4 linked regions of the Homo sapiens genome follow. The protein of the gene in region 3 purifies or fractionates together with the protein of the main gene of each other region. This does not show direct contact. Each region holds a gene or a part of one and is shown on either strand. Other genes may lie near its edges. The genes, in order: NIF3L1, MMADHC, SPMIP6 and DCTN6.

Region 1 (7,683 bases), on a different chromosome or scaffold from region 3:
AATGGTCTACTGCTTGGTAAATCTAGCCATGTAAACCATCATTCAGGTTGCAAATGCTCATACTTTATTTGACCACATTAATCCAGATATCATCATAAAAGCTTTAGCCCAAAATGAGTAAACTAAAGACTTACTAAAATAAAGCTAAAATCCATCCATCATTCCCTCATTGTGCTAGGCATAAGTAAACATTCACTAAAAACATTCATTAAAACCCTGATGTCTATTTACTTGACTTATCAATCAAGTGTATTCTGGAGAGGCCTGAGCTTTCAATTCAACAAGCATTTTCCAAGTGCCTGGGTGACAGGCATTGTGCCACAAAAGTGAGGAATCATGAAGCTCAGTCCAGTAAGGAAGACTTCTGCTCTCCTTACTCCATAAGAATAAAAAATGTTTCCTTTTTCAAATGCAATTTAACTGCCAAATTTCAGCAACATTATTTTAAAATTATTATATAAAAATGGAATCATGCCCTCCCCAACCCTAAAGCAGTTAAAACTTTACTGGAAAGACATCCTAAAGTTTCAAAGTATTTGCAGGGAAAATATCAAATATGAAAGAGGCTTCTCACCAAGCCCTTTAGCCAACCAGTTGTTGACGCCCTGGGGCGCAGCATCATAGGCTGTATGAGGAGAGTAGATACCGACTCTGTTCTCCAGAGCCCGGATCACCAGGCGCTCCTTCCATGTGTTCCAGGTTATGCGCTTCATGGGTCGGAAGATAGGCGGATGGTAGGAGAGAATGAGGTCTGCCTTCTTTTGCAGCACCTCCTCCATCACTTCCTCAGTCAGGTCATTGGTCAGGAAGAGTGTATTTACAGTATGTGGTGGGCTTGGTTCCACCAGTAATCCAACATTGTCCCAACTCTCAGCAAACGAGAGGGATGCAAAGTCATTCAAGGAAGAAAGGAGAGCCTTCAAATCCATGAAGGAACGGGAAGAATTGCAGATCAGGGAATCTACAAACCGGACTGTCGTGGGGACTGGGCGTACGCAAGATGACAACATACAGAAATCAGGTAAAGTTCAAGTTTCTGATGTCAAAACAAAGAAAATGGTACACAGGTATACTTTAGGCCTGGATCTTTGAGGCATCAAAACATATGGGCAAAAGAGCTGTCGTCATAGAGATCTGGGTTCAAATAGTGGCTCTGCCACTTACCAGCACACTGTAACTTAGGTAAGCCATTTAACCTCTCCAATCTTGTTTTCTCACCTACGAAACAGAGATACTATAACCCACTTCACAGGCCATCCAGAGGAGCTAATGAATTATGTAACCTAGCAAAGCCTGGTACATAATACACAAACGTCCATCCCATCTCCTGCCTTGCACACCCTTGTTCTTATTCTCCCTACCCTTGCTTCAACCAACCTCCTCCCTAATCCATTTCTCTAAATATTACCTTTCCTTTTCCCAAGCCCCCTCCAACTTCTTAAATAAAACTTTTCTTGACCTCCCTTTTCAGCATCCTTCCCAAGGCTCCCCACCCCTCAGTATTCTCATAATTCTGTGTGTGCCCATTATGCTAAAGCTACTATGTAATAGGAACTAACTTCAATAAATCTCAGTATCACTAATATAAGCCAGCACTAAATGCTTACTGCATAGAATGACACTGCCCGCCTCCCCTGATTGCAACAGAATTTGGAGTTGGGGTGGTATATACTGGCATTACAATGTGCTTTACCAAAAAACAGAATAATGTGGCGGGGCGCCTGTAATCCCAGCACTTTGGGAGGCCGAGGCGGGAGGATCACAAAGTCAAGAGATAAAGACTATCCTGGCCAACGTGGTGAAACCGTCTCTACTAAAAATACAAAAATTAGCTGGGCATGGTGGTGTGCACCTGTAGTCCCAGCTACTCGGGAGGCTGACGCAGGAGAATCACTTGAACCTGGGAGGCGGAGGTTGCAGTGAGCCAAGATCATGCCACAGCACTCCAGCCTGGCGAGAGAGCAACACTCCGTCTCAAAAAGAAAAAAAAAAAAAAAAAGAATGTTTAAAATGTCAAGTGCTTTATCAGAATCAAAAATCAAGGAATACATAGGCAGGTCACTCTATAAATGGGCAGGGTCAAGGCAGAAGAAGGGAGAAGCCACTGCCCCTTAAGCAACATTTGCTACACAAAGGCCAGGCTCAAGAGGTGGGAGGGGATAAGGTATAGGGTACTTTTCCCAGACAGCCTGTAAGCCTTCTAAGTATCTACATCCAACAAGGAACTGAAAAGGTTGGCAACAGAGGGAAGGTGGGAGGGCAATGGAAAGGTAGAAAAAAACTGCTGGCTCCAAAATATGCACAATTAGTAAATGTTTAATCAAATAACCACAAAAGATAATGCTGTCAACCCCATTCTTAAACTTACCACTTATAAACACTTTTTGAAGAAAAACATTTCATAGTATGCACAATAAGAAAGCATAGCCAACTGTAAATTTGATGAAATATCCATAAGTCAATTATTCCAAAAGCAATTTTTCAACATTTCTATTTAATGAGATGAAGATGCTTGTTTAACACATTATTTGAAGTGATACAGGGTCTCCAAAAACCACTCGAGGTCTTGGAAGTTTGTTTTTGTTTTTTTCTTTTTGACACAGGGTTTCACTAGGCGCCTAGGCTGGAGTGCAGTGGCGTGATCTCAGCTCACTGCAGCCTCGACTTCCTGAGCTCAAGCAGATCCTCCCACCTCAGCCTCCTGAGCAGCTGGGACTACAGGCGCTAAACACCACACCTGGCTAATTTTTGTATTTTTAGTAGAGATGGGGATTCGCCATGTTGCCCAGGCTGGTCTCAAACTCCTGCGCTCAAGTGATCCACCTGCCTCGGCCTCCAAGAGTACCGGGATTACAGGGGTGAGCCACTGCGTCCGGCCTTGAAAGATCTTCTAATGGTCCTCATAGTACTCCATTCTCCAGCATTTTCTACATCTGGCAAGCTCGAAAGTGAAACCCTAGTGGGCCATCATGCAGGTTTTGAGTTATTTACTGTTACAGATGAGGAAACTGCGAAGCTACATGGCCACAGTCAACAACGACAACAGAAGGCAACATAGTATGGCGGTTAAGAGCACCGACTCTGAAGCCAGCCTGAATCCTAGAGCCAGAGCTGTGCAACAGCAGGTAAATGACTTATCCTGTGCAGTTTCCTCCTTAATGGAAATAGTGCCCAGGCCACAATATCGCGAGATTTACACGTAAAGCTGGAAACAACTCCCGTCCTAGAGTAAGCACTGTTTACTATTAAGCAGCATCAGTAGGGCCCCTTTGCAACCTGCAAACCGCTCCCTCGACGTTACCTCATCTATGCCTCATTTCAGTGCCACTTCAGGCCTTTTCCAGGACAGTGAAAAACCACGAGACACAGCCAGTTAAGTCTGAGTCAGGACCCCTGTCCCACTAGTGCGCTGTGCTCTGGTGCGGCAGGGCAGTTTTCTGACCCAATCTCCTCTTCTGCTGTCCTCTGCAGCACCAAGATAACAATCACAGCCGGCCCCAACCGGCACCTACCGCGAAGGTCACAACTACACTCGCGGGTTTTTAAATCGCCCACTACTCACCAGTCCCGGAAACTTCTCTGCGTCACTTCCGGTCCCGCGTCGGCGCTCCGGATGCTGTGGCACTTGGCTCCCCGTAGCGGGAGAGCTGGGCGGAAGTGGTCCTTTCCGTTTGGCAGCCGAGTGTAAAGCATTGCTTGAGGTTGCCCAGGTAGTTTCGCCTTACACTTCTTGTCCCAGTGCAATTATTAGTAGAGCTCCCTTTCACTGTCAAATTTCCGGTTGGGGATAAATTGCATTGTCGTTTTGGTTTGAGATAGGAAGATGAGGGGAGGAAGGAGGTGAGGCGGTAAGGGGCGTTCTCTCTCTTGGGTCCCGCGCCCAACTTCCGCTGGCCCAAAGAAACTATAATTTTGAACCAACAGACCTCTGCTGGCATCTGCGATTGCATTTTTCCTGTTTTAACAACGGCTGTGCTAGACGAAGTGGTGAAGCCCAAGTATGGAGTAACGTCATTAATTCTTTCATTCACTTATTCGAATGCTTGCTGAGTTCTGTGTTGCTACTGGTTTAGTTCTTGGGATACTGCGAGTGAACAGTGGGCGGCGAGGCTGTTGTTGCAACGTCAGAGTAAAAGAAGGACCCTGCACGGCGGCCTCCCAGCACTTCGGGAGGCCGAGGCGGGCGGATCACCTGAAGTCAGGAGTTCGAGACCAGCCTGGCCAACACGGCGAAACCCCGTCTCTACTAAAAATACAAAAATTAGTCGTGCATGGTAGCGCGCGCCTGTAGTCCCACCTACTCGGGAGGCTGAGACACGACAATCACTTGAACCCGGGAGGCGGAGGCGGAGGTTGCAGTGAGCCGAGATCCTGCCGCACTGCACTCCAGCCTGGCGACATAGCGAGACTCCGTCTCAAAATGAAAAAAAAAGAGAAGTTCATAGTATATTAGTGATAAGTGCTGTGGTGGAAAAAAAAAAGTTCATAGTATATTAGTATAAGTGCTGTGGTGAAAAAAAAAAAAAGCGAATTTCATAGTATATTAGTGATAAGTGCTGTGGGAGAAGGAAATAGGAATGTCCTAGGGCTGAAGGGCTAAAGCAGTTCTGTGTAGGATTGTCAGGTCAGTTAAACTTGACATTTAAGCAGAAATTTGGAGGTGAGGAAATTAGCCGTAGAGATGTCTGAGTATAAGAATTCCAGGCAAAAGGGACACCCAATGCCTGGACCCTAAGGGAAGGTATCTGGGTTATTGGGGGACTTGCAAGGAGGCTCTTGAAGAAGAGCAAGCCGGGCAAGTAGGAGATTGGGAGGCTTGAATCGGGTAGGATATCTTCTATAGCCGGGTTTTTATTACCTAGGGGATGCCATTAGAGGATTTTTTTTTTTTTTTTTTTTGACGGAGTCTCGCGCTGTCACCCAGGCTGGAGTGCAGTGGCGCGATCTCAGCTCACTGCAGCCTCCGCCTCCTGGGTTCAAGTGATTCTCCTGCCGCAGCCTGCTGAGTAGCTAGGACTACAGGCGCCTGCCACCACACCCGGCTAATTTTTGTGTTTTTAGTAGAGACGGGGTTTCGCCATGTTGGCCAGGCTGGTCTCGAACTCCTGACCTCAAGTGATCCACCCGCCTCGGCCTCCCAAAGTGTTAGGATTATAGGCGTGAGCCACCACGCCCGGCGAGGTTTTTATTTAAAATGTTCAGTAAAGATGAGCGTGTGTGAGTTAAGACAGGAAAATGAGCCTAATTCTTTTTTTCTTTTGGGACTAGAGACTTATTTTTGAGCTCGCTGTAAGACTGAGAAATCACGTAGTCCTTCCTGAAACCACTAAGAGGAAAAATGGTAAGTTTTGAGCAATTTTTATCTAATGTCTTTCATTATAAGTAATTTTTAGAAATTCAGTCAAGGGCAATAAAAGTTCATGGAAATTGCAGTGGCAAGATGGAGAAATTGTATAATATAGAAGCACTTAATATGGAATAATTCTTTTAAAAAATACACAAAATTGCTTTAAAATTCTTTAATGTTGTCACTTAAAATGCACAGAATTTACCTTTTTTTTTTTTTTTTTTTTTGAGTTTCACTCTTGTCTCCCAGGCTGGAGTGCAGTGGTGTAATCTCGGCTCACTGCAGCCTCTGCCCCTGGGTTCAAGCGATTCTCCTGCCTTAGCCTCCCCGGTAGCTGAGATTACACGCGCCTGCCACCACGCCCAGCTAATTTTTTGTATTTTTAGTAGAGATGGGGTTTCGCCATTTTGGGCAGACTGGTCTCGAACTCCTGACCTCAGGTGATCTGCCTGCCTTGACCTCCCAAAGTGTTGGAATTACAGGCGTGAGCCAACTCGCCCAGCCAGAATTTACCTTTTATGGAGAAAGATTGATTACAAGATAGATAGAAATGGAAAGGGAGAGTTGAAGGAGCAGAAGAGAATAGACAGGTCTGACAATTTTAATTGGATTATTTTGCTCTAGATCTAAAGTGGGCAACTAGGCTGGGCACAGTGGCTGACACCTGTGATCCCAGCACTTTGGGAGGCGGAGGTGAGAGGACTGCTTGATCCCAGGAGTTCAACACCAGCTTGGGCAACACAGTGAGGCCCCCGTCTCTACTTTTAAAAAAACAATTAAATAAAGTGGGCAACTAGAACCTGAAGTAGAAAAAGGCAATGAGAATAGTGCCCTGCTTCTCCCACACACATCTTTAACCTGCTCATACTCTCTAACTGCTAGGCCAGGCGCGGTGGCTCACGCCTGTAATCTCGGCACTTTGGGAGGCAGAGGTGGGCCAATCACTTGAGGTCAGGAGTTCGAGACCAGCCTGGCCAACATGGTGAAACCCTGTCTCTACTAAAAATACAAAAATTATCTGGGTGTTGTGGCATATCCCAGTAATCCCAGCTACTTGGGAGGCTGAGGCAGGAGAATTGCTTGAACGCAGGAGGTGGAGATTGTAGTGAGCCGAGATCACGCCACTGCACTCCAGTGTGGGCGACAGAGCAAGACTCCACCTCAAAAAAAAAAAAAAGGAGAAATGAAAAAGGAACCCTCCAAATTGTTTTCTCCCTCTCTGGAATACAGTATCATATCAAGGGGTATACAGGTTACAGAAAAACAGGTACAACAAAAACAAAAAGCAAGCAAGAAAGCACTGTGGTTATCTCTGCACATTTAAGATTTAGAAACACTGACACTTGTTATATTTTTGTTAGTCGAGAAAGGAATTATTTTTTAACCCTATTTCTCAGAATTAAATTACCTAAGGAAAATGGTGGAAATTATGTTTTGAAAAATCATTTTCTCATCATTTTTCTATAAATAAGGATGTTGGTGAATTGCCATGTACATCAATAATACATAACAATTGTTTTTATTTTTCTTGATAAAAAATTCAAAGTTAAAATAATTCTTTCCATCAAAATATTTACTTCCAAATTTTTGTCATGGATACTACTTAACCCTAACATTTATATTCTGGAGTTTTTTCTCTACTGTTGGGATCAATTTTGAGAAAAAAGTACAACTTAACCTCTAAGAGCTGCTTTGTGGATGGGTCATCTCTGAAGCAGTATTTCTGTCTGTTTTTATTCAGATTATCATCTTGAATATCCACACAGGGAAATAAACAATGCATAAAGTCACCTAAATAAATTTCATTTGTTCTCACATTTTCTCTCCTTTTTAGTCTGTGACACTGCATACAGATGTAGGTGATATTAAAATTGAAGTCTTCTGTGAGAGGACACCCAAAACATGTGAGGTAAGTACTATTATTTACATATTCAACATCAGTTAATACAACAAGATAAGCACTTTGGAATTGAATAATCTAACCTAAATAACAACAACAAAACTTTCTGTAAAACCATTGTTAGGGAAAACTAGCCATCCTAACTTCTGGCCTGATTTCCACTTATTTGTCCAATGTCAAAGGTGGATCAAAGAGAACGTAGATAATTTTTCGGTAACGATAGAGTAGCCAGTATCTTTTTCTTTTGAACTAATTTTCTTCAGGAAACGTAATCATTAGGACATTATATTACTTTTTTCTTTCTTTTTTTTTATTTATTTATTATTATTTTTTTTTGAGATGGAGTCTCGCTGTGTCCCCCAGGCTGGAGTACAATGGCGCGATCTCGGCTCACTGCAACCTCCGCCTCCTGGGTTCAAGCAAGTCTTCTGCCTCA
Region 2 (8,362 bases), on a different chromosome or scaffold from region 3:
GATTATCTGAAGGGGCCAATATTTGAGAGCATGTAATAGTAATAATCAATGTTGGACACTATGGGTCCAAGTTCTATAGTAAGTGCTGTACATATACATTGTTTTATTTAATTTTCATAACAATTCTATATACTGTTATTAGAACTAGTTTCAGCATGGTTAAACTACAATCTGCGATCATTCACATCGTTTCACAAGCAAAAAACAGAAGGAGGAGGAAGATCATCCAAATTATTTCAAAAATCGCCTATTATTTATTATTTTAGCCTGTCTATCAAGGCCATTAGATTATATTTTGACATTCTTTTCTTGGTGATAGAACTTTTAACAAAAGTTATATAATAAAATATGAGTTTTGTTCCTAGCCTAAGAAAATCCAATTACCAAATTTCATTTTAATAGCAAAATAAACCAGTATCTAAATTGCCCACTGAAAGCGACAGTTGATGATAGTACTAATCTGTTTCAAACCTTACCCGTTAACCTGTGAGATTCTCAAATCTTGGCTGGGTGCAGTGGCTCATGCCTGTAATCCCAGCACTTAGGGAGGCGAAGGTGGGTGGATTACCTGAGGTCTAGCCTGGCCAACATGGTGAAACCCCGTTTCTACTAAAAATACAAAAAAAGCCAATTAGCCGGGCATCGTGGCAAGTGCCTATAATCCCAGCTACTTAGGAGGCTGAGGCAGGAGAATTACTTGAACCCAGGAGCCAGGATTTCAGTGAGCAGAGATCCCGCCATTGCACTCCGGCCTGGGAAACAAGAGTGAAACTCCGTCTCAAAAAAAAAAAAAAGAAAAAAGAAAAAAAAGAAGAAAAACAAATCTGTAATTGTAATTGTGGAAGTGGAATATTTTCTGACAACTTGACAGATTTTATGACTGGTTCAGCTGGTGAACATAATTAAAAATAATAGCCAAAAAGCAAGTCAAAATTACAGCAGAGAGTTCATTCTAGTTTGAGGAAAAGCATTTATTTTATATATGATTAAATTCAAACTTCTAGACTTGGGAAGATGACATGCTATTATGTTTTAACTGTAAAATCCTTATTAGTATATAAAGAGAAAGTGCCTTTTGTGCACTGCCTTAGGACTAAGTTCTGCTTTTGATCATGTGAGGAAAAAATATGGTCTGTACAAAAACTAAAAACTGGTAGTTTATGTAGTGCATCCACATCTATCCAGACATTTTTGTGCATCCCACAGTGTTGCAAGATATTTGAATTAAATACAAACATTGAGAAATCGCAATATTTACACAAAAGGTCCAGAAATTTGGCTCTTCTTGAAAACTCAGAAGATCTGGCAGTATTGGATTCACATAACCAAATGGCATTAGTTAGCAACAAATCACTGTAGCTAAGGAAAGGTTGCTCCCCTTTGTTCAGAAAGGCTTTGTCACAGTCCCCATGAAGGCTTCTTAATGTACCTGTCTAGACTCTGAAACATGAACATTCTTGCCCCTTGTTATGAAACACTATCTGCATATTTCATTAGTAACATCCATCCACAATTTACAATCCATATAAATTAACACAAAAATTGTTATCGTACATTTGGATACTGAAACTTAAATTTATTTTAATATGAACTTCTTTCTAACAAAAGACTTATAAAAGGATCTTCCCTACTGAACTATTATAATTTATTCATTTAAACCAAAATAAAACCAGGTCAAATAATAGCATTCTATTCTACTTCAATTAATTTCTCTCCTTTGAAAGTACCACATACTTCTTTTACAGCATTCTCTTTCTGTGCAGGTTATGGGCAGGCAAAAATTCACCATAGAACTTGGCCAAGACTAGTAATCTATTCTTATGACTTGTCTCTATAGTCACACTTTAGACTTAATATACCATGTTCAATTACAGAAATAGCATCCTGGCTAAATGCTGCCATATAAATCTTCCTAGCACACAGCTCTAAGTGAATAATCACAATTTAAAGAATGAAGTCTAAATTACTGAGTTCGGCATTCAAGGCTCTCATTTACTTGGTACCAACCTCACAATTCAACCTTATCTCCCACTTATCTCTTTCATGCAGCTTACATTCAGGTTGGCAGGCAGCAGTCACTTTTCAGTTTTTCAAAGGGGTAGGCGGGTTGGGGAGTTCTTTGAATATACCTTCCTGTCCTTCCCGCTCATATTTTAGACTATACAAATCCCACCTATCTTTCAAACCTCAAGTTAAATGTTTCCCTCATGAAGTGATCCCAAACTCCTCTCCACAAAGACTTGAATCTGCATTGCACCTTCGTGTAGGTTCTAAAAAAAATTATTACTTTATACTTTAATTGTAGCTGTTTTTATATATGTCTTATGACCGCTACATATGAATTCTATAGATAGGATGTGTCTAATCACTGCAAAGTTACAGTCAATAAATATCTCTGGTGTGTGAGAGTATCTCCTATTCTTATTTTGTAGGATTTAGAAGGTCACTTCCAATATGGAAACTGTTTTAAAAAAAAGAAAAAAAGATTAAAAAAACCCTTCAGTTTAGCTAACCCAAAAGCTAAAAAAGGGCCTAAACATAGATTCTAATATTTACTGAAACGCTGTATTTAAAAAATACCGAAAGGGTGCTTGAATTTCCACATCTGTACAAATGAAATTGTATAAATAAGTGTATTTGCAGTGCAAAGAATGCTACCATCTTCAAAGCATAACATAATTTCACACCACTTGCTTCCCTTGACATTTTTGATACATTATATCTAACACTATACCACCCAATGCCATCATAATTAAACCCGTTCTTTCATTCCTAACATTCCCAAACGAGTTTACTATGCTGATTCTTAAGAGATAATTTACTCACATTGGCCATCTCCGCTGGAGAAGATAGTTCGCAAAATAGCTTTCCTTTGGTAAAGTTATTTCTGGGAAAGAACACAACAAAACAGACGAGTGATCGATTAAACTCTAACAACAGACAACTGAGGTAACGTCCACTCTTCGAAGGTGTGTCGTCCACCACGTCAGGACCAAAGTCCAAGCTCTCCCCGTACCCTAAGGAGGCCAGAACTCGCCCCCATGCCAGGCACAGATCCCCCAGCCCGGAGCCGGCAGTGCAGCTCAGAGCCCTTCCGGTTTACAGCCGCGGAAAAACAACTCGGACCAGATCCGGGAGGGGAATGGGGGCTGGGTGGCCAAAATTCAGTCCAGAGGATCGAAGCGGCTGCTTTAACAGAAGTTGGGGCTGCGTAACAACAGCTCCAAGCAAAGCTTCAGGCTGATCGGAAAGATGAGGAAGCAGAAAAGAGACTAAAGACAGACGGACAGGATGGCTGGGGACAACGACAGGGACCCAGTGAAAATACGGGCAATACCGAGGGCTGTAACCCTAACACGGGCAAATTTGGAGGGGCTAACATGGGCGGAAACCATCCGTACCAGTCACCACCACTGTCTCCAGCTGTCCCAGAACCGGACTCTTCCTGCCATCAAAATGGCGGCGGCGACGGCAGCGGTGGTAGCACCTACGCTGGCGGTGAGCAGGCAAAGGAAGTTGCTTCCGAGCGCGTCGAAACGATGATGCGCACGCGCAAAGTAGGCCTACGTGGAGCCGACCTGCCATTGGGTAAACGCAAGGGAGGAGAAAAGGTGGGGCAGGGGTGATTTGGGTGGATGGATAGGAGGGCTTCCGACCTGCGTTAGGCGGGTCAGTTAATCTTCAGTAACTCCTTGATGCGTTTGATAGTCCTCCCAACTTAAGCCTTCCTTACTGCCTCCAGGAGATACAGTCTTCTGTTCTTTTTGTCATAGTTGTTTATTTTTCATGAATCGCTGTTTTTGAGCATAGGGCACTTACCTCTTTCTGTGTCCCCAGCCCTACCACAGTGCCAGGCTCTCAATATGCTCGATAAATATTAGGCGATTGATTTGTAAATCGTGTATCATTTTCATGTATCTAATACTTTTTTAAAAATTGATTAAAGCCCATAAGCCCATATTTTATTCCAGATGTCCTTAGTTTTCGACCTGGTATTCTTTTCCATTCCAGGATCCTGTCCGGAGTACATCACCATGTCTTCCAGGCTCCTCTGGACCGTGACCGTTTCTCAAACTTTCCTTGTTTTTGATAACCTTAATAGTTTTGAAGCGACTTATTGGTCATTTGGTCAAATGTCCTTCAATTGGGTTTTGCCTGTATTTTTCTCATGCATTAACTGAGGTTATGGGTTTTTCTTGAGTTAAGAGGTAAGGTAAAGTGATCTTCTCATCACATCACATCAAGGGTATATACTATCAACATGACTTATTACTGTTGATGCTAACCTTTATCACCATTATTACAGTGTCATACAGAAAAGTTTTATAGTTCTACAAAGATCCCCTTTGTTTCATCTAGTAAGCCCTTCCACCTCCCTATGTAGGGTTTGTCAGGTTTCTCCACTGTGAAGTTACTGTTTTTCTTTTCCTCTCCATACTATACTATTTGGAAGGACATCTCTCTGTGCAGCCCAAACTATAGGAATGGGAAATTGTTATACTCCACCTTTATGAGGACAGAATATCTTCATGAATTATTTGGAATTCTTCTGCATGGGAGATTTGTCTGTACTGCATTTATTTATGTATTCAATCATTTATGTCAGTATGGACTCATGGATATTTATTTTACATTTTGGGTTATAATCCAATACTACTTTATTTTGTTGTTCATATTGGTTCCAGCTTTGGCTATTGAGATTTCCTTTAGTTGGCATTTGTGTCTTTTTGACAAACCCTCCTCGTTTTATGTTTATTGATTTTTTTTCTTGAGCATTTTCTTAATTTCTATAAGTTGCTCCAGGCTCATCTTGTATATTCCCTGCCCCAATCCTAGAATCAGCTGCTTCCCCAAAAAGCCAAGGGTACTTTTAATGGAAAATGATATTAGAAATCAAGATTTGGACATTTGGGATGTTGTTGCTTCTAGACACTCTCAGCTGACAGAGCAAGGAAATATTTGTGGATATGCTAACCTGACTAAATACGCATATCTGTAAGTATTTATATATGTATCCATCTGTATCTTTGACAGCTACACAGGCGTTCTAGGTTCAAATACTAGAGCTGTTATCTTCAGTTCAATTCCAGCACCATATGGATCATTGCAGCCTTCTCCCCTTGCTTGTCTGTAGCCTTCCACTCCAGTGTGAGACACCTGGCTCTCATCATCTGCCATCCATTTACCTAATTGTTCAATTCCAGGTTACGTGTATAATGGATTCAGAACCGTCAACCCGTATTCAGAGTACATGTATAGTTGTTTCTGAACTGTTATCAGGTATACCTGTGAGAAACAGATTTACCAATTAGAGTACAATGCTTATGTATAGTTCTTTTGCTTTTAATCTTATAGATTCCACTTATTTTCAAAGTTACTGAAGTCAGCAGCCCTCCCTCCTACCTCTACCCGGCCTCAGTGAAGTTATTTTATATGCTCGTAATACAGTTGTAATCTTTTGCCACAATCTGCATTACTCCTGGGATTCTTTGAGTTCCTAAGATTTTTTAAAAAATCTTCCTCCGTTTAGGTTCTGTTTGTGCAATCCTCATAATGCACATTTATTTTTTTCTTTTCCTGTACATAATAGCAGACAGCTGGTCAGTAGTGGGATAGAAGTAAAAATTTTTTTAACTTCAAATTTTCTTTCTATGGGGTTTGACAAATCCATACATAGTGTCATGGATCCACCATTATTAGAGTGTCATACAGAAAAGTTGTAGTTCTAAAAAGATCCCCTTTGTTTCATCTAGTATTAAACCCTCCCACCTTCCTATACCTCTAGCAACCACTGATGTGTTTACCATCTCTATAATTTTGACTTTTCCAGAATGACATAGAAATGGAATAATACAGCATGTAGCATTTTCAGACTCATTTTCTTCACATAGTAATAGCTGCATTTAAGATTCATCCATGTTTTTGTGTGGCATAACAGTTCATTCCTGTCTTTTTATGGATTCTTTTTTAAGACAGGGTCTGATAGCTCTGTTGCCCAGGCTGCAGTCCAGTGGCACGATCATAGCTCACTGTAACCTCAAATTCCTGGGCTCAAGCAATCCTCCTGCCTCAGCTTCCCACGTAGCTGGGACTACAGGTGCACACCATCATGCTTCACTAATTGTAAAAACTTTTTTGTAGAGAAGGGGGCCTCAAACTTCTGGCCTCAAGGGATCCTCCCACGTCAGCTCACAAAGCATTAGTATTACAGGTATGAGCCTCCAGGCCTGGTCTTTATTTCTGTCTTTTTGATCCCTGAATAGTATTCTAATGTATAGATGTACCACCATTTATACTTATTAAAGAACATTGTGATTCTTCCAGTTTTTGACAATTGTGAATAAAGCTGGTATTAAGTATTTAAGTGCAGGTTTTTCTGTGAACATGTTTCAAGTCAGTTGAGTAAATATCTAGAAGCACAATTGCTGGCAATTGTATTTTTATAAGATATGTGAAAATAGTTCTGCTAGGTTATTTGAGCATCTTCCCCACAATCATATATATAGTTAATTTAAGAAATGCTCTTCTATGTTGATAACATAGAGCAAACTTCATTCCACTCCTGTCTGATTACTACAAATTGGTAATGTCCAAATTAGTAGGCTTTATGAATCACAGGCTGACACTCCTGCAGCTGTTCAAATCAATGAATACTCAATCGCAGATAAAGGAGAGTATCTTGGAATGTCTTTGTTAAGGATATCCAGGGAAGAAATTCTAGGACTTTCCTTGGAAACCATCTGATATCTCAAAAAACCTTAACCTTAGGAAATTATCCCTGCCCCAGAATTCTCATGTTGTACATTTATTTCCTCTTTTCCTATACATAGTAGGAGACAGCTGGTCAGTAGTGGGATGGAAGTCAAAAATTTTGACTTCAAATTGTGTTTTTCTTTAATAGATGCTTTTTTATGCTGGGAATTTGTTGCTCCAAAAGTGGGCCAATTACTAAAGTCATCAGACTCTCTTTCAATTTCTGAGATGTGAAATTGAAAGAGAGCTGCATATTTTCTTACAGAAAATGCTAGATATAAGGCACAACCAAGGAAGGGGTGGGAGCTCTCTTTCTCTGTTGTGACTTCGTGATTCCTAGTTAAAGTCTGTGGGTGTCAAGTTGTTTAGTGATGAAGAGAGCAGAAAAGTGCCAAAGAAGCTGGTGATTTGAGACCTTTACTTTGCAAACATTAGTGATAGGAAACTAGAGTTGAGGAGAAATTCTAAATTTGAAGAGAGAATTCTAGATTATCCTTCCAAACTAAGTATGTCCAGGAGTTACCAGCCTGAAGACCTCTACCACCACTACTGATGCTGTTCTATAAAGGCAGAATGTTGTATGTAATGGTACAGGTATAGACTAACACCATATGGCCCTGATTGGATTCTTGAATCTGACATTTCTAGCTAAGTCATTGTCTTAGTCTATTTTATATTGTTATAAAATAACAACATAATCCCACAGACTGACTAATTTATAAAGAAATTTATTTAGGTCATGGTTATGGAGCTGGAAGTCCAAGAGTATATGCTAGAATCTTCTGAGGGCCCGTGTGCTTCATCATCTTGTGGCCAGAAGAAATGTAGGGGGTTGAGAACATTTCAGGCAAAGGAAGCAAAATGAATAGAGGAATAGAATCCAAAAGACTGTGGGCAGTTTGAGAGATCCACAGCTAGTTCAAGGAACTGAGTTGGAGGTAGATGGGGATCAGATCATAATTGATCTTCAGTGCAATACTAAGGCGGATGTAATCCTGGAAGCAATGAAAAGTAAGTGGGCAGATTTAAGCAGTCATGCCATTATCAGATTTGTGTCTTGGGAAGATCTTCTGGCTACAGCACAGAGAATAGATTGGAAGGGTGTTGGGCAGCAATTGGATCAAGCAGTTAGGAGACTCTTGTAGTATCCATGAGGAAGAACACAAAGAGCCTGAACTAAGGGAAGGGGAGCGTTAAGGAATCAACATGACATAGCTATCCATGGGTTGCTGATGAGGAAAAGAGGACAAGTTGAATCTTCAACTTCTAAATTTTTGATTCAGGATATTTGGCGAATGGGGTTCCTTTTACTGAGATTGGGAATCCAGTAAAAAGTGGATATTTGTATAATATATCCTACGTGGCAGGCACTTGGATAGGCATTTTTTCAATATCTATTTTAATCCTCAATAATGCAGAAAATTGAGGTATTATTATCTTCATATCATAAATGAAAAAATGAAAGCAAAAAGAGGAAATATATTACTGAAGCTTCTGGGGCTGGATTTAAATCTGAATCTGTTTGGTTTAAAACTAGTATTCCCTTTTTCATAGGATACTTCCTCCCAAGAGGAAAGCAAATTTAAGGAGAATGATAATATGCTTAGTT
Region 3 (8,068 bases):
CTCACTTGACCAGAGCCCTGATGAGAAGCCACTGGTAGCCCTTGACACGGACAGGTGTGTATGGGGGCTTGGGGGTAGCTGGGCAGCCCAAAGGAACCTGTATAGCACAAGTGGGCTGTACAGGCCACACCTGCTATATTGTCAGAATTGGGATATTCTTCAGCCAGAATCTCTCCAAGGGTGAATTCTCCAGGGATGGGAATTTTTTTACACCAGGGACTGGGGGTTGAAGAGAGGTGGCAGAGAGAGGAAAGGGGGGCCTGCGTTGTCTGCTGTCATCCTGGGACAACTGATCCAATGGTTGTCCCTAATTGGCCTGTGATGTTGTCTCTGGACAGCAGAATATGATGCTTAATGCCCCATCCCCTCAGGAAGGAGCCCTACTCCCTGGAAAACACCTGGCTAGACTTGGACTTTGGGAATATCCTACAAGTCAGGGTGATTTGAGTCTACAAAAAAAAAAAAAAAGATGAGAAGGGGGTGAAAGGAGTAACTGCTATATTTAGAAGGAGGTTAAGGATAGCAATTGATTTTAAGGGTGGGGCTAGGGAACTTGTCTTTAAAATCCTGCATTTGCACAGCAAGCACAGTTCGTATTGAGATTTTGCTATTTGGAACTGTAAGGGAGGTATAGGATGCTGCCTAATGGGAGGTGGGATTGCAGAGAGTTTTCTATGTAATTTCTTGGTATCACTTTCCCTCTCTTTCCTCCATGGCCAGCGATGATGACTTTGACATGTCTAGATACTCCTCCTCCGGCTACTCCTCTGCTGAGGTGAGCCCCTACCCCTTCTCACCCTAGACACCACCGGGCAGGATCACTGCCATCCCGGGGGAGGGCTGGGGCCAATGCCCAAGTACAAGGAAAAAGAGGGCTGGGCAAGGCTGGGTGGTGCCCTGCACAGGGTGGGCCTGGGATAGGATGGAAGAGAAGTGGTTACTGGCCTCAAGTGCATGGAGCCCAGGGTTAGGAGTGGGGCTTTAGATTGCAGCAGGCCATTTAAATAGAATGGGTGTAAAATACAGGTGATATCCTCTAGTAGCCGGCCTGAGATAGGGGCAAAACCCGAATAGGAGCAGGACCAGAGGTGTGAAGTTGACCATAGAATGGGGAGGGGTGACTAGAAAGAGAGGCCAGAGGCGAAGGAGGGCGCCTAGGCAGGAGCGGGGCCTGGGGGTACAGACAGACCCGGGACAGGGCGGGGCTGATATCCAGGGCACTGGCTGGACTGGGGCGCAGACGGCCTGGAGTGGCCGCAGAGCTGTGGGTGGTGCCTCCCTGCCGCTCGGGCCTGACCTCCCTCCCCTTTGCCTACAGCAGATCAACCAAGATTTGAACATCCAGCTGCTGAAGGACGGCTACCGGTTAGATGAGATCCCCGACGACGAGGACCTAGACCTCATCCCCCCCAAGTCCGTGAACCCCACGTGCATGTGCTGCCAGGCCACGTCCTCCACCGCCTGCCACATTCAGTAGCGGGCGGGGCCACTGCGGTCGCCGGGGCGGGGCCGCCAAGGGCCGGGTAGGACGGGCAGAGGCCGACCCCTTCCCAGCTCGTCTGCCTGCCCCCGGCCCCGCGCCCCTACAGCCGCCAACCTCGTATAACAGTCATTGCTTCCTCCTATGGTAGGACGTGTACCTCTGTGTGTTCATGGAGCTGGAGAAACCAAAACTGGGTCTCTCTCCACCCGGGAGCTGAGGAGGGGTGGGGGCCGTTTGTTCAGTTACCTGGGGGAACCTCACCCAGCACCCTGCCCCGCTTCCCAGGGCTGGCCAAGAGAGAAGACTGGACGGCAGGGAGGTCAACATTAACGAGTGGGGGGATCACAAAGCCAGGGGCTTGGCCCCACCCCAGCGAAGCCATGAACTCCCAAGCCCCGGCCTCAGCCTAACCAGGAAAGGGGCTCGGAGGGAGAAAGGCCCAGGGCAGTGGGGACGGGTCCCAGCACCTCGGAGCCCCCTTCACACGCCCCCTACCGGCCCATGTTTCTATTTGCATTTCCCCCTCCTCAGATGGGAAGCCTGGCAAAGCTGCCCAACCGGGTAGTGCCCCTCACCCATCGGATCACTGCCTTCTTCCTCCTCTTGCCCCATTCACCCGCTTCCTTGCACTCTGGGAGTGGGGCAGGGTAAGGTGGGCCTTACAGACAGGCTGAGGTTTGGGTGGTGTGATCTGTCCTAATTGGCCCCTCACCAATGCATCTATCTGTCTGCCACCAGCCCACCCCACCCTGCCCCCACCCTCACCCACGCTTCTGCTCATTGGTCTCAATCCCAGCCTGGAAGCAGGGAGTAAGGCTGGACTCCAATGGCCCATTCCCCTCACCCCAGCCCAAGACGTGGGAGGCTGCTTCCCAGTAAGAATCCAGGAGCAAGCTTTGGTGAATCCAGTGGGCTGAGTGGCTCTATGGATGTGGTTGTTTGGATGTGGTAGGGAGTGCTTAGCAGAATGTGTGTGTATCTCTGAGGCTGTCAGGGGGTGGGTGGGTGTGTGTCTCTGTTGGACCTGTCTCTCCTCAGTCTATTCCTGTCATAGATGTGGGTGTCCCTGGTAGGGAAGTGCCTGTGTGGTCTGTTTACAGTGCAGAAGGCGGCTCAGCAGTGCAATGGGCTGACAGCCTTGGACCGGGAGTCAGAAGCCTGGGTTCTGGTTGTAGCTCTGGCCCCTCCCTGTGATCTTCAACAAGCCACTTGCTTTCTCTCGTCTTCAGTTTCCTCAACTAGAAAATGAACAGCAGCTGAAATTATGTTGAAGATCCTTTTATACCTGAAAGAGTTTCTTCATAGAAATTTCTGTGGTGGGGAGGGGGCAATCTCTGTGTGTCTCAGTATACCTAAAGGTTGGGGTGGGGCGGAGTTGTGTGTCTCTGTAGAAAGGCGAAGGGGCAGTTCCTATCAGGACTGTGTATGTCTGAGCACATGTGGCTCTGTTTGGGATTACGTGTTTGTCTGTGAATGTGTGTGTGTGTTGGAGGGTTGTCTATTGTGTGTGGCTGTATAGGGTGTCTGTAGATCAAGATGTGTATACAGCTGCTTCTGCTATTGCTGGTTTGGGGGAGGGGACTGGAAAGCTGAGACTGAAAATCAAGAGGGAAGAGGTGAGGAAGGCCCACCCCTGGGGCTGGGCAGTGTAGACCTGCCACCGTGTGAAGAAAAATGAAAGCACAGATAGCCTAAGACTGCACAGGCCTGTGCCCACATACCTTATAGCACAGGCCCAGGTGGATCATCTCATGCTAACACCCCACATGTGCTGGTGGATCCACTCCCATGGATCCACTCACATGCTGCAGGCATGCAGTAGACTCACCCACAGCCCACTCTCTGGACACCAATCCTGGGAGGTGGGAGCTGGAATGGGGAGCAATGAGAGGAGGGAGTGAGACTGTTGGCTTAGGAAGGGTGGTACCTCTCCCTGCATCATACCCAGGAACTGCCAGCTCCAAAATATTGGGGTACAGCTCACCACCCCCCACTCCGCCAACCCATTCCTACCTCCTCTAGTGCAGGGACCCAAGTTAGATGATGAGAAAATGCCAAACAAAGGGAGGCAAGGACAGAGAAGGTACCTGCAGGACCCACAAGGCCCATACTGGCCCCCATCTGAACCCACCTCTCCCACCCAGATCAACATCCCCCCAACCCCTGTGCCCCCATCATCTGGACCCCAGAGCCAGCCCTCCCACTACCACCACCACCACCCCGGGGCTCCTTGGCTCACCTTTCTAGAACATGGGTACCTCCTCTTTTTGGGGGCTCATTTAGACTGCTGCCTTTGCTGCTGACTTGCAGTGTGACTCGGGCCCATTGTTCAATCTCTGTGGCCCTGAGACACCAGGGAAAATCTCCCCCCCCACAGGACATACTAGTTCCCTGGCAGGCAAGGGCTTCCAACTGAGGCAGTGCATGTGTGGCAGAGAGAGGCAGGAAGCTGGCAGTGGCAGCTTCTGTGTCTAGGGAGGGGTGTGGCTCCCTCCTTCCCTGTCTGGGAGGTTGGAGGGAAGAATCTAGGCCTTAGCTTGCCCTCCTGCCACCCTTCCCCTTGTAGATACTGCCTTAACACTCCCTCCTCTCTCAGCTGTGGCTGCCACCCAGCCAGGTTTCTCCGTGCTCACTAATTTATTTCCAGGAAGGTGTGTGGAAGACATGAGCCGTGTATAATATTTTTTTTAACATTTTCATTGCAGTATTGACCATCATCCTTGGTTGTGTATCGTGTAACACAAATAATGATATTAAAAGCATCAAACAAGCCAGCCTCAGCTCCCTCCCTGGGGTGTGGGCAAGGGGCAGATGGGCTGGGAAGCAGACAGAACTGGTCCTCTGGGCACACATGTTACTCCACCTCCACCTGTGGGTTCCCAGGCATGCCACTGACCTGCTGCATGACCCTGGGTGAGTCACAACCCCTCCGAACCTCTGTTTCTCTTCAACAGTGAGAAACCTGACCTAGAAGATCTCCAGAGGCCCTCTGAACTCTTAGAAATTGGGCTCTTTTGATAGGCTTGAGGCAGGAGGGGGTCAGGAGCAGGGAGGGAATTAGACCTCCTCACCTTCCCAGGGATGGGGCTGAGCCAGGTGATATCACAATGGGCAGTGCCCATCCTGGAGGGGGCATCAGTGTGGGGTGGGAGCAGGAAGGCTGTTGGGGAAGGAAGCTGAGAGATCCTCTGCAGGAGGGGATTATAGCAGCTAAGGGCACCTGCCAGGCTGGAGGTGTGGCCTGTCTAGGGGAAGGGTGGTCACTGATGTCCAGCAGGAGCCCTTGACAGGTAGAGCCCACCACGGCATCTCCAAGACCACACCATGTTCCTGTTCTCCCGTAAGACCAGGACCCCTATCAGTACCTACAGTGACTCCTACAGGGCTCCCACCTCCATCAAGGAGGTCTATAAGGACCCACCCCTGTGTGCCTGGGAAGCCAACAAGTTTCTGACTCCGGTAAGTGGGAGATTGGTGGGGAGGGGCAGGCCAGAGTGTATGGCCAGTCTGGATGCCTGGCAATGTATGTTTGTAATGATTTGTAGCTTTGTGTATGTGTGTGTTTTATTCATTTACCTAGGCACAGAATTTACAATGGTATGTAAAACAGCACAAAATCCTGCCTTCATGGAATTACATTAGGGTAGGAGGTAGGAACAGGCAGATAATAAGAAATAAACATGAGTTTTATAAATTCTTCAAAAATACTGTAAAGGAAATAAACAGAGTAGTGGAAGTGGAAATGGAAAGGGAGGGCTACTTAGGTCATGGAAAACCCTCTCTCAAGGTGACAATAAACTGAGACTGGAAAGATGAGATAGAACTAGCCACATGAAGACCTGAAAGAATAGAAGAGCTGAAAGTTCCAGACAAGTGATCACAAAGTGCAAAGGCCCTGAGGCTGCCTGTGGAATAGGCCGGAAACTGTCCTATATGCATGCCTTTATCTATATGTATCACAGTTTACTTGTGTCTGTGCTTGAAGATTGGTGGCCAGGTGGGAGGAAATCTGTGAGTCTAACTGTGACTCTGCCTAAGAGAATTTATCTGTGTGTACCATCCAACTTTGCTGAGTATCTTCATCTGTAGGCAACCCAGGATACAAAAGGGAAGGGCCAGCCCTTGCCTTTGAGGAGCTCACAGCAAACAAGTGAACAAAGTAGAGTTGCCCGATGTGGAACATGCACCAGCAGAGGTGGAGAGCCAGAAAGGGGAGAGCGCTGCCCAACCTGAAGGGCAGACCTACTGAGGGATCCAGGAGGAGGAGGCTTCCAGCAGAAGACAGTCAGGAGAAAAGGCAGCCTGTGGGCAGGGACCTACCAGAAACTGAAACTGTTAGAGCAGGAGAGTTTAGTCCTTGGGTGAGAGAGGAGTCTGCAGACCAAGAAGGGCCTCTCTGGCTATGTTGTGGAGCGTGGACATAAGGCTCCAGGTTTTTGAACCTGGGAGGGAGAGTCATGGTTCAATTGTGAGTTAGGCCACTCTGGCCACAGTGTCAGGGAATTGCAGGGGCTGGGGTTGAGGGCAGGAAGGCCAGCGAGGGGTGAACAGATGAGGAAGGAGGATGTAGGTGGGAGATAAGGAGATTGTCACAATGAAAAAAGGAATTCGTTGAATAGGAGAGAATTTTTAAAATAATTTATTTTGTCTAACTCCAAAATAAATATACGCTGAATGTAGAAAATGCAGATAACTCAGAGAAGCACAAAGAAAAAAGGTCTAAAATCCTACTACCTAAAATTACCATTGTTAATATATTATCGTATGCCCTTTCAGGAAGCAAATATTGTTTATTATAAAAATAAATAAAATTTATTACAAAATGGTGTATTTAAGGAATCTTATTGAAAATTTAGGTACTTTATAAAATTTTGCTAGTATAATCATTCTTATACATGTATCTTTGTACACATTTCCAATTATTCCCTTAGGATAAATTACTAGACATGAAATTGTTAGGAGAAAAGATATACACATTTTTAAAACTTTTGCTATATACCTCAAATTGCCATAATAAGTAAGGGTTGTAACAATTTACATTTCCACAAGCAAAATATGAGAGTGCCTGACTCCATACTCAATAGAAGGGAATTTTAAAAAGTAGATGAACAGATTTTGGTCACCATATGGATGGTAAGGTGAGAGATTAGGGTGACCCTTGAGTTTTTGGCTGTGGCAGCTGGAGGAATGCTAATGCTATCAACTGAGGTTTGGAATAACAGATTAGAGATTTGGAGTTCATTTGAGAACAAAAATATTTGAGGATATCCAGGAAAAGATGTTTGGCAAGTAGTTAGATATACTTATCTGAAGCAAAGGAAAGAGGTCTGGGTTATAGATAGAGATCTTGAAGTCATCATCATATAAATGGTGGGTGAAGTCATAGGAAGAGATGAAATTGCCAAAGAAGAGAGAGAAAATGGCCAAGGACATAACTTTGGAGAATATAAATATTTAAGGGTAGGTAAAGGAAAAAAAGCCATAAAAGAAGACAGAGAATTATTGCCAGAGAACTAGGAGGAAAATCAAAGATAAACCAATAAAGACAGCATTATTAGACAAAGATCAGTGTCAAGTGTTAGTGACAGAGAAATCTCTCGGATGTAGTAACTCTTGGTAACTTAGCCAGACAGCTTCAATGAATGGCGAGGAGTGAAAGTCAGATAGCAGTGGTATTAAGAATGAAGGAAAAGCCAGGCATGGTGTCTCAGGCCAGTAATCCAAGCACTTTGGGAGGTTGAAGCAGACAGGAAGATTGCTTGAGCCTACGAGTTCAAGACCAGCCTGGGCATCATGGTGAAATCCTGTCTCTACCAAAAATACAAAGATTAGCCAGGTGCAGTGGCATGTGCCCATAGTCCCAGCTACTCGGGAGGCTGAGATAGAATCACTTGAGCCCAGGAGGTTGAGGCTGCAGTGAGCCTTGATCACACCACTTTACTCCAGCCTGGATGACAGAGCGAGGCCCTGTCTCTTAAAAAAAAAAAAAAAGAATGAAGGAAAAGCTGCTGCTTTTGGCAGTATGGTGGTCTAGAAACTCTGAAGGGCCCTGTTGCTTCAAAACAACTTAAGTTCTGAATAAAAATTAATTTTTATTTTGTGTTGGAGTCTCATGGAGATGAGTGGTAAGTATAGTTAAGAAGACAGGATTGTCCTGAGGACAAATGCCATTATTAGCACTATAAACAGGCATTTAAGCCTTAAACTAGCTGAAAGATAGAGGAATTAAATCTGTACATTCCAAACTTAACCAGAAAGTTCCATGTCTCTGCCCCCCAACACACACCCCACACACACATATTTATCTTCAATGGCGGTAAACATCCTCAGTGTAGGTTTCCAGGTATCCTTTGAAGAACGGCCAATTAAACATGAGCTCACAATAAGAGATAAAAGAAAACAAACCACCATATTACAGAATCTGCAGACACAACAAACAATAAACTTAAACTCCCAAGAATTTCAGATATTAGAATTAACAGTTAAATAATATAGAATAATTGGGCCGGGTGCAGTGGCTCACAGCTGTAATCCCAGCACTTTGGGAGGCCGAGGTGGGTGGATCATGAGGTCAGGAGATCGAGA
Region 4 (7,583 bases), on a different chromosome or scaffold from region 3:
TTTTGGGAAAATCAGCAGATAGAACTCTTTTTAAAGAGAGGTTCTAGTACCTGCGGTCGCTCAGTCTGCACCCGACGAAGGCAGTCTGCACCATAGATCACCGTATTCTCAGGGATGACTTCAAATGTATTTAGGTTGCAACAAGCCCCAATGATGCAGCCACTTGTCAATATTACATTTCTGCCTACATATGCTGCAATAAAAACACAGAAAGAACTGCAACTTAAGACATCAAATGATTCCAACACTTTTTTTCTTAAGGTGATTTAGGTATAAAAATGTAAACTGGCCTCAAGAAAAAAGTTAAAGAAAATACATCAGTTTGGAGTTTGTATGGACAACACAGAGGCAGGCAGTACAAGCCAGGGTCAGATGAATTCAAAATGGAGCTCTGCTGCTATTTGTGTGACCTTGGGAAAGTCGCTGCAAAGTCTCTAAGCTCAAGTTCATCTATAAAACAAAGAGGCCACTCTACTTCACAGTTTAAGGAATAAATGTGATAACAGATGTAAAGTGATGAGCACAGGTTTGACACACAGTAAGCATAAAATAAATAGAAAATGCTGATGATAATAGTGATAATTGATAATCCAAATTAAAATAAAAGTCATTAAGTAGATTAACAAAAAGTGTAATTTTATTATTTTAAAAAGAAGCATTTTCTTTCGTGCCACTCAGGACCAAGAAAGATAACCCACTATTCTAAAGAATTGTCATCATTCAGGTTTTTTCTGGACCTTGGTGGGACAAGCTCTTGAAGTTGCTTCCCAGTAGTGACAGTGACTTTAGGTAATCTCCTGTCTGGTCCCACTTACAAGCACATGATATTTGTTTCTGATTGGCTAGGGAAAAGTATTCCTGAAATTAAAGAAAACAACTGCTACAGAAACTTTGATTTTTCCCCCCCTTTAATTCTACAACAACACTAACCAACTAAAATTTCAGAGACTAGTATTTAGTAGAAATCTTTTCCAAATCTTTCATTTAAAGTTTATGGTTTAATTCAATCCTGTACATAGCTGATTTTAAATTTAATGTATTTAACATTACCAGATAACCACATAACCAGATTAGGTTCCTTAGTGGCAAACAATTAGTTCGCCAGCTATTGTAGCCCACTTCCAAGCACAACACCTTGCCACAGTTTCTATTAGGTTGTTTCCCAGGACACCACAAAGAGAAAAGAGGTCACTGCTTTGACAATGAAACTCTGAATGTAGCTTACCTTTTGATTCAATGACATTATTATCTCCCATCTTCATGGCTTGGGAATCTGTAAGCCAGAGTTAGGTAAATACTACAAATATGTTCATCTTTAGTCCCCACTAACACAGTATGTACTTACATTGCACTGGGACAGAGGACAGGGGTGTCAGATGGGCCATGCAGGCTCACCCTTGCCAGAACTCTTTGCTCTGGGCAATCTGTGGTAACGGTTTAATCTTTAAACATAAGTATCTCTAGGTATAAATAAATGACTTGTGTTTTTAAAGAAATGAGCACCTTATACCCTGATTTTATGAGTAAAATATTTTCATAATTGTTTCAAGATAATTAAAACTATCCATCACCCAATCACTTAAACACTGTTAAAAGTTTGATATATCTTTATATAAATATATAGAATTTCCTGTATATAAGTGGGAATCAAACTGTATAAACTTTTATAGCTTATTCAGTTCACTTAAATTTGCAAGCATTATTCCACGCTATTAAAATCTTTAGGCCAGGCAGGGTGGCTCACATCTGTAACCCCAGCACTCTGGGAGGCCAAGGTGGGAGGATTGCTTGAGCCTAGGGGTTCAAGGACCAGCCTGGGCAACAGAGTGAGACACCATCTCTACCAAAAATAAAATTAGCTGGGCACGGTGGTGTGCACCTATAATTCCAGCTACTTGGGAGGCTGAGATGGAAGGATTGCTTGAGTCTGGGAGCTGAGGCTGCAGTAAGCTATGATTGTGCCACTGCAATGCCAGCCTGGGTGACAGAGCAAGAGCCTGTCTCAGAAAAGATAAAATAAAAAAAAAATCTTTAAAAACATAACTTTAAATGACTGCTTAATGCTCCTAGTGGTTTTATGCTCATAGTTCAATTTATTTAAATATCTTGCTATCATTGAACATTTAGATTTTTCCTTCTAAATATTTTCTACTATAGTATGTTTTGCTGACACCATAAGATTTTACTATCTTTTTTTTTTTTTTTTTTTTAATCTTTTTGAGACGGAGTTTCGCTCATTGCCCAGGCTGGGGTGCAATGGCGCGATCTCAGCTCACCGCAATCTCCGCCTCCTGGGTTCAAGTGATTCTCCTGCCTCAGCCTCCCGAGTAGCTGGGATTACAGGCATGTACCATCACGCCCGGCTAATTTTGTATTTTTAGTAGAGACGGGGTTTCTCCACGTTGGTCAGGCTGGCCTCAAACTCCCAACCTCAGGTGATCTGCCCGCCTCGGCCTCCCAAAATGCTGGGATTACGGACATGAACCACGGTGCCTGCCCTGATTTTACTATCTTTTTAGAGTACTAAACTAAGCAAAAGAACTGGAGACATTCTAGGGAGGAAAAAAGACAACACATGAATAATGGAATATTTTCACCCCTACACACCATTTTCTTGAATCAGACAATGCATTGTCTACCTAAAACTACAGAGGAACCACACTGACAAAGCTGGGGTTCTTGAATCAAGAAGGAAGCCAGCATTGCTGCTTCTATGTTTACTGTCACTCAGCCATTGCTACCTGTCAACAAGCTGTAGTACCAGCAAAAGAAGTGGTTTCTTTCAAAGTGCTGAGCTAAAGATATGTGTGTGTCTGCGTTTGTCTAAAAACGGCATACTTATTTTACTCTATTGACTTATTTACAGGAACAGAAGGGACCATTTTTAAAATATATACTATTCAAGAAGTCTGTTCAAAGAGCTAGATGACCTACTTTTATTTATTTTTATTTTTATTCTCTTTTGAGAAGGAGTCTTGCTCTGTCACCCAGGCTGGAGTGCAGTGGCACAATCTTGGCTCACTGCAACCTCTGCCTCCCGAGTTCAAGCGATTCTCTTGCCTCAGCCTCCCAAGTAACTGGAATTTCAGGCGTGCACCACCGTGCCCAGCTAATTCTTGTAATTTTTTTTTTTAATAGTAGAGATGGGGTTTCACCATGTTGGCCAGGCTGGTCTTGAACTCCTGGCCTCAAGTGATCCGCCAGCTTCGGCCTCCCACAGTGCTGGGATTTACAGGCATGAGCCACCGCACCCAGCCTGGATGACCTACTTTTAAAAATGTAATTATAATATATATTGTGAATGTAAGTATGTTTGATAGATAAATTATGACAATTTTACAATTTCTACAGGAGAAGACTTAGGTACTAAAGGAGAGCCAGGAATTATTTACAATTTCTACAGGAGAAGACTTAGGTACTAAAGGAGAGCCAGGAATTATTTATGGTAGATTATTGTAAAGGATACAACAGCCAACTTCAAACACATTATTGGTGCCAATGATCATAGGTTTTGGTTCTGGATCTTCAGTGTCAGGAGTGATATTATCTGGGTAACTGTAAACAGAAGAAACAAATCATCCAAAAAGTCAATAACACAATAAGCAATTTTCTTCCCATTTTCGAATTTGGGTTAATTCTTTCAATTTTACCTACATCAAGCTTAAAAGACATGACTATATAAGTTATTTCTTTTTTTCTTTCTTTTTTGATATGGAATCTCACTCTATCACCCAGGCTGGTACAGTGGCACCATCTTGGATCACTGCAACCTCCGTCTCCCGGGTTCAAGAGATTCTCCTGCCTCAGCCTCCCGAGTAGCTGGGACTACAGGCACGTGCCACTAGGCCTGGCTAATTTTTGTATTTTTGTGGAGATGGGGTTTCACCATGTTGCCCAGGCTGGTCTCGAACTGATCTCAGGTGATCCACCAGCTAGGGCCTCCCCAAGTGCTGAGATTACAGACATGAGCCACCACGCCCAGCCTATGTAAGTTATTTCTTAATTCAAGTGATTCATTCATCCTGTGTGCTAGAGAAGGCTTGATTTTGAGTTGAAGAGAGCTACTGAAAAGTGAAGAAGTCATTGGTGTGTGGAAAAGAATAGCCTTCCTTAGTTTATTTGATTTTTTTATTTTTTATTTTTTTTTGAGACGGAGTCTTGCTGTGTCCCCCAAGCTGGAGTGCAGTGGCACGATCTTGGCTCACTGCAACCTCCACCTCCCAGCTTCAAGCGATTCTCCTGCCTCAGCCTCCCAAGTAGCTGGGACTACAAGGTGGGGTGCCACCACGCCCGGCTAATTTTTTTTTGTATTTTCAGTAGAGACGGGGTTTCACCATATTGGTCAGGCTGGTCTTGAACTCCTGACCTCGTGATCTGCCCGCCTCGGCCTCCCAAAGTGCTGGGATTACAGGCATGAGGCACCACGCCCAGCCTACTTTATTTTTTAAATTCAAAGTCCAGTGGGTCTTCTCCAGGACAAAGGAAAGAAGATGCTAGCTATCTTTTTAGGCTGTTAATTAGAACCAAAATCATGCCTAACTTGAAAATTTTCCACCCTTAATAATCATTTGGGATTGTGAAACATAAACAGATATTCACATAAAATAATTATTGCTATTAGTTAGCTAGTTGAAATATTTGGAAGATAAAATGTTTGTGTTCTAAGAGGTGGACGCCATTTTTAAATGGTGCTTTATCTCTGACAGTTGAGTTACTGCAGAATATAGTTGCTGTTAATTGACTTACACTGAAGGTGCCAAATGTATTTTAAATCCTAAGTAAGCATTAAATCAGTCTTTTTCTGACAGTTAAATATTTTCCCAAGGTCTTTCTTACAAATTCCATACATGGTTGCTATAAATTAGGTATAAGCTTGAATTCCTTCCCAAAATTTTATCTAGAAAGAACTTATGTTTATGAAAAATTCATACGTATTACAGTCTAGTTCACTCAGATCATGCACATGTTCTAGTATTTTATTATTTTTAATCTTTACAGTTTAAAAATTGCCTCTAAGACTCCACATTTTTCAACTATAATTCTGGGTGTCACCTGTGCAAAACATGTGAAAAAATATATTTGAGTTAAATTCACGTGTTTAGGCATGAGTAATAACATTTCAGCTACAACCAAAAAATCAAAAAAAAAAAAAACTCTGCAGGGTGGTGGGCACAGCACTTGGAGGCTTGAAGTGTTCGGGAAATGTTTGCTTAAGGAATGGGTGAGATAGCCACATGTAAGGGGAAGATCACCAGACCGAGCGTCAAAGATTCTAGGCAGCTACTCAGCTCTCTCATCTTGGACAAGTCTTTTCCCTCATATGGTATTTGGTTTGCTCATTTACTTATGTTGAAAAAGACCCTTAATGCTTCTCTAGCTCTAAAATAGTAGGCCTCCTGGATGTCAGCTGAAAAGGTTCTTACAGACAGCTGAAATTAAGAAAAACCGTTACCCATGGTACTTGGTTCACAGTATGTATAAGAGTCTTACGCATTTATGATAAGGGCCTGTTCTTCTATTAGGTTCCCTTCGCCAATCACTATTGGCCCGGCTTCCGCAATAATTCTTGCTTTAGGGTGGATCACTGTCCGAGGTCCTGTTAAAAATAGTTTGAGAAGAAATTATTGGTGGAGGCTATGCTTCCAACAGAAGGGTGGAAGGTGACTGAGGATGGGTGAGGCTGTTGGGAGGAACATTTTCTAAGTATGTGCCAGGCACCAAGCTAGGTACTTCACAGATACTATCTCCCAGGCTTTATCATCAGTAGTCAGGGCCAAGTTGCAAGCCAATGTGAGTGGAATGGCACAGGCACTAGAGCCAGACAGCTCTGGCTCAGCCTCCACTCGGAAGCTTCCTGTGATCTCAGCGGTGAAACAGAGGTGATGACAACACCAGTCCCACAGGGTTGCTGTAAGGGCTAGGGGCGATAATGCTGGAGACACAGCATGTGACACAAAGGTGGCAATAAAAATTAATTCCTTCTTTTCCCTCAGCAAGGTAACACTCTCTTTGCTTAAGCTGTTCTGCTTTCTTATGCGAGTGTACCTCCGAATTAGTCTTTTTATTACATAATTGAGAAGAAATGTGGAGGCCAAGGCGGGGAGATCGCTTAAGGTCAGGAGATCGAGACCAGCCTGACCAACATGGCGAAACCCCATCTGTACCAAAAAATACTAAAATTAGCCAGGCATGATGGTATGTGCGCCTGTAGTCCCAGCTACTTGGGAGGCTGAGGCAGGAGAATCATGTGAACACAGGAAGCAAAGGCTACAGTGAGCTGAGATCATGCCACTGTACTCCAGCCTGGGTGACAGAGCAAGACCCTGTCTCAAAAAAAGAAAAAAAAAAAAGGAGAAATATGGGTGGACAGAAGTCAGAAATTATGGGATCTAACAGCTTTGTTCCTCTGTCAGTGTCCCTATTACAAGCACACCTACTGAAAGGTGGCACAGCTTCTGCTGTCTGGCCCAGGATATGATTTAAACCAGTGAAAGCTGAAAAGGTTAAAGGGAGGCAGCAGAAGGACCCAAAGGTGATCACTGGAGTCCGAGGACTTTGGCGTGGGGAGCCCTGAGGCGATGCCTCTAGTCTCGAATTGAAGGGAACAGCCAGGGCCCTCATTACTCCCACTTCACCAGCACGGTCTACCCCGCCCTGAGCCTGGAATGCTAACATACTCCCTCCCAGCTTTATCTACCACAGGCTGAGGGTTCTGGTGATAATGAAACCACTGATGAGAAAACATAGCCTCCTTTAGGCTCTCTCCAATATCCATCCCACGTACCCCTCAATACCAAGGCAATTTTTATGGGTAAACAAGTGCAGATGAAGTAACTGACTCTGAAAGTAAGGGAGGGTGGACAGAAGTGTTGATAGAGGGGGTGGGGGATTAGGAAAGAAATTCAGTATTCAATTGTGTAAACTGGTTTTTTTTTTTTTTTTTTTTTTTAAGAGACAGGGTCTCATTCTGTCACCCAGGCTGGAGTGTAGTAGTGTGATCATAACTCCCTCCAGCCTTCAATTCCTGGGCTCAAGCAATCCTCCTGCCTCAGCCTCTTGAATCACTGGAACTACAGGCACATGCCACCACATCCAGCTAATTTTTAGAGATGGGGTCTCACTATGTTGCCCAGGCTTGTCTTGAACACTTGGCCTCAAGAAATCCTCCTGCCTCAGCCTCCCAAAATGCTGGGATTACAGGCGTGAGCCACTGTGCCCCACCTAATGATATAAATTGTCAATTCATAATTATTATCTGCCTGTGACAGCTGAGATGCCTCACTATATGTTATGGGGCAACAAAAATAAATACATGTTATTTTTGTCCTTTTGAACTTGTTATCTTGAAAACTGGGAATGCTTAATATACACTCATTCACAAATGTACTAAAATAAATAAGGAGGTGTTTCTGGTGCCCAGAGAATTGGAGAGAACCTCAGGAATGCCTATTGTTTTTCCTGATGAGGAATTGCTGGGGGCTGATAATGAGGGCGGGGGCCTAAAACAGGGTGCTCAGTCCAACATCCCAACATTTCTTATCAGAACGCACAGTCTGGTAAGAAATAACAAGAGTGGCCTTGAT

Evidence for each region.
Region 1: the proteins of SPMIP6 (region 3) and NIF3L1 purify together in Homo sapiens (affinity purification with mass spectrometry; 3 studies listed by BioGRID and IntAct, with this or other methods). This does not show direct contact.
Region 2: the proteins of SPMIP6 (region 3) and MMADHC purify together in Homo sapiens (affinity purification with mass spectrometry; 3 studies listed by BioGRID and IntAct, with this or other methods). This does not show direct contact.
Region 4: the proteins of SPMIP6 (region 3) and DCTN6 purify together in Homo sapiens (affinity purification with mass spectrometry; 3 studies listed by BioGRID and IntAct, with this or other methods). This does not show direct contact.

The regions. Positions count from the first base shown.
Region 1 is NC_000002.12:200,885,271-200,892,953, reverse strand, and holds the start of NIF3L1 (NIF3-like protein 1), read right to left. Parts: upstream 3,584-7,683; 5' UTR 3,302-3,583; exon of another isoform or gene 1,037-3,301; 5' UTR 1,011-1,036; coding exon 575-1,010; intron 1-574. Other genes in the region: PPIL3 (peptidyl-prolyl cis-trans isomerase-like 3), read left to right, coding at 5,339-5,341, 7,182-7,256, 7,587-7,683. UniProt on the Homo sapiens protein: May function as a transcriptional corepressor through its interaction with COPS2, negatively regulating the expression of genes involved in neuronal differentiation.
Region 2 is NC_000002.12:149,584,263-149,592,624, forward strand, and holds the start of MMADHC (cobalamin trafficking protein CblD), read right to left. Parts: upstream 3,514-8,362; 5' UTR 3,402-3,513; exon of another isoform or gene 3,096-3,401; intron 2,888-3,095; 5' UTR 2,836-2,887; coding exon 2,827-2,835; intron 1-2,826. UniProt on the Homo sapiens protein: Involved in cobalamin metabolism and trafficking. Plays a role in regulating the biosynthesis and the proportion of two coenzymes, methylcob(III)alamin (MeCbl) and 5'-deoxyadenosylcobalamin (AdoCbl). Promotes oxidation of cob(II)alamin bound to MMACHC.
Region 3 is NC_000009.12:34,394,373-34,402,440, reverse strand, and holds the start of SPMIP6 (sperm microtubule inner protein 6), read left to right. Parts: upstream 1-4,630; 5' UTR 4,631-4,807; coding exon 4,808-4,942; intron 4,943-6,106; exon of another isoform or gene 6,107-8,068. Other genes in the region: protein FAM219A, read left to right, coding at 1-54, 721-775, 1,319-1,477. UniProt on the Homo sapiens protein: May participate in intramanchette transport and midpiece formation of the sperm tail. May play a potential role in somatic cell proliferation.
Region 4 is NC_000008.11:30,173,098-30,180,680, reverse strand, and holds part of DCTN6 (dynactin subunit 6), read right to left. Parts: intron 5,597-7,583; coding exon 5,491-5,596; intron 3,556-5,490; coding exon 3,467-3,555; intron 1,274-3,466; coding exon 1,226-1,273; intron 194-1,225; coding exon 51-193; intron 1-50. UniProt on the Homo sapiens protein: Part of the dynactin complex that activates the molecular motor dynein for ultra-processive transport along microtubules.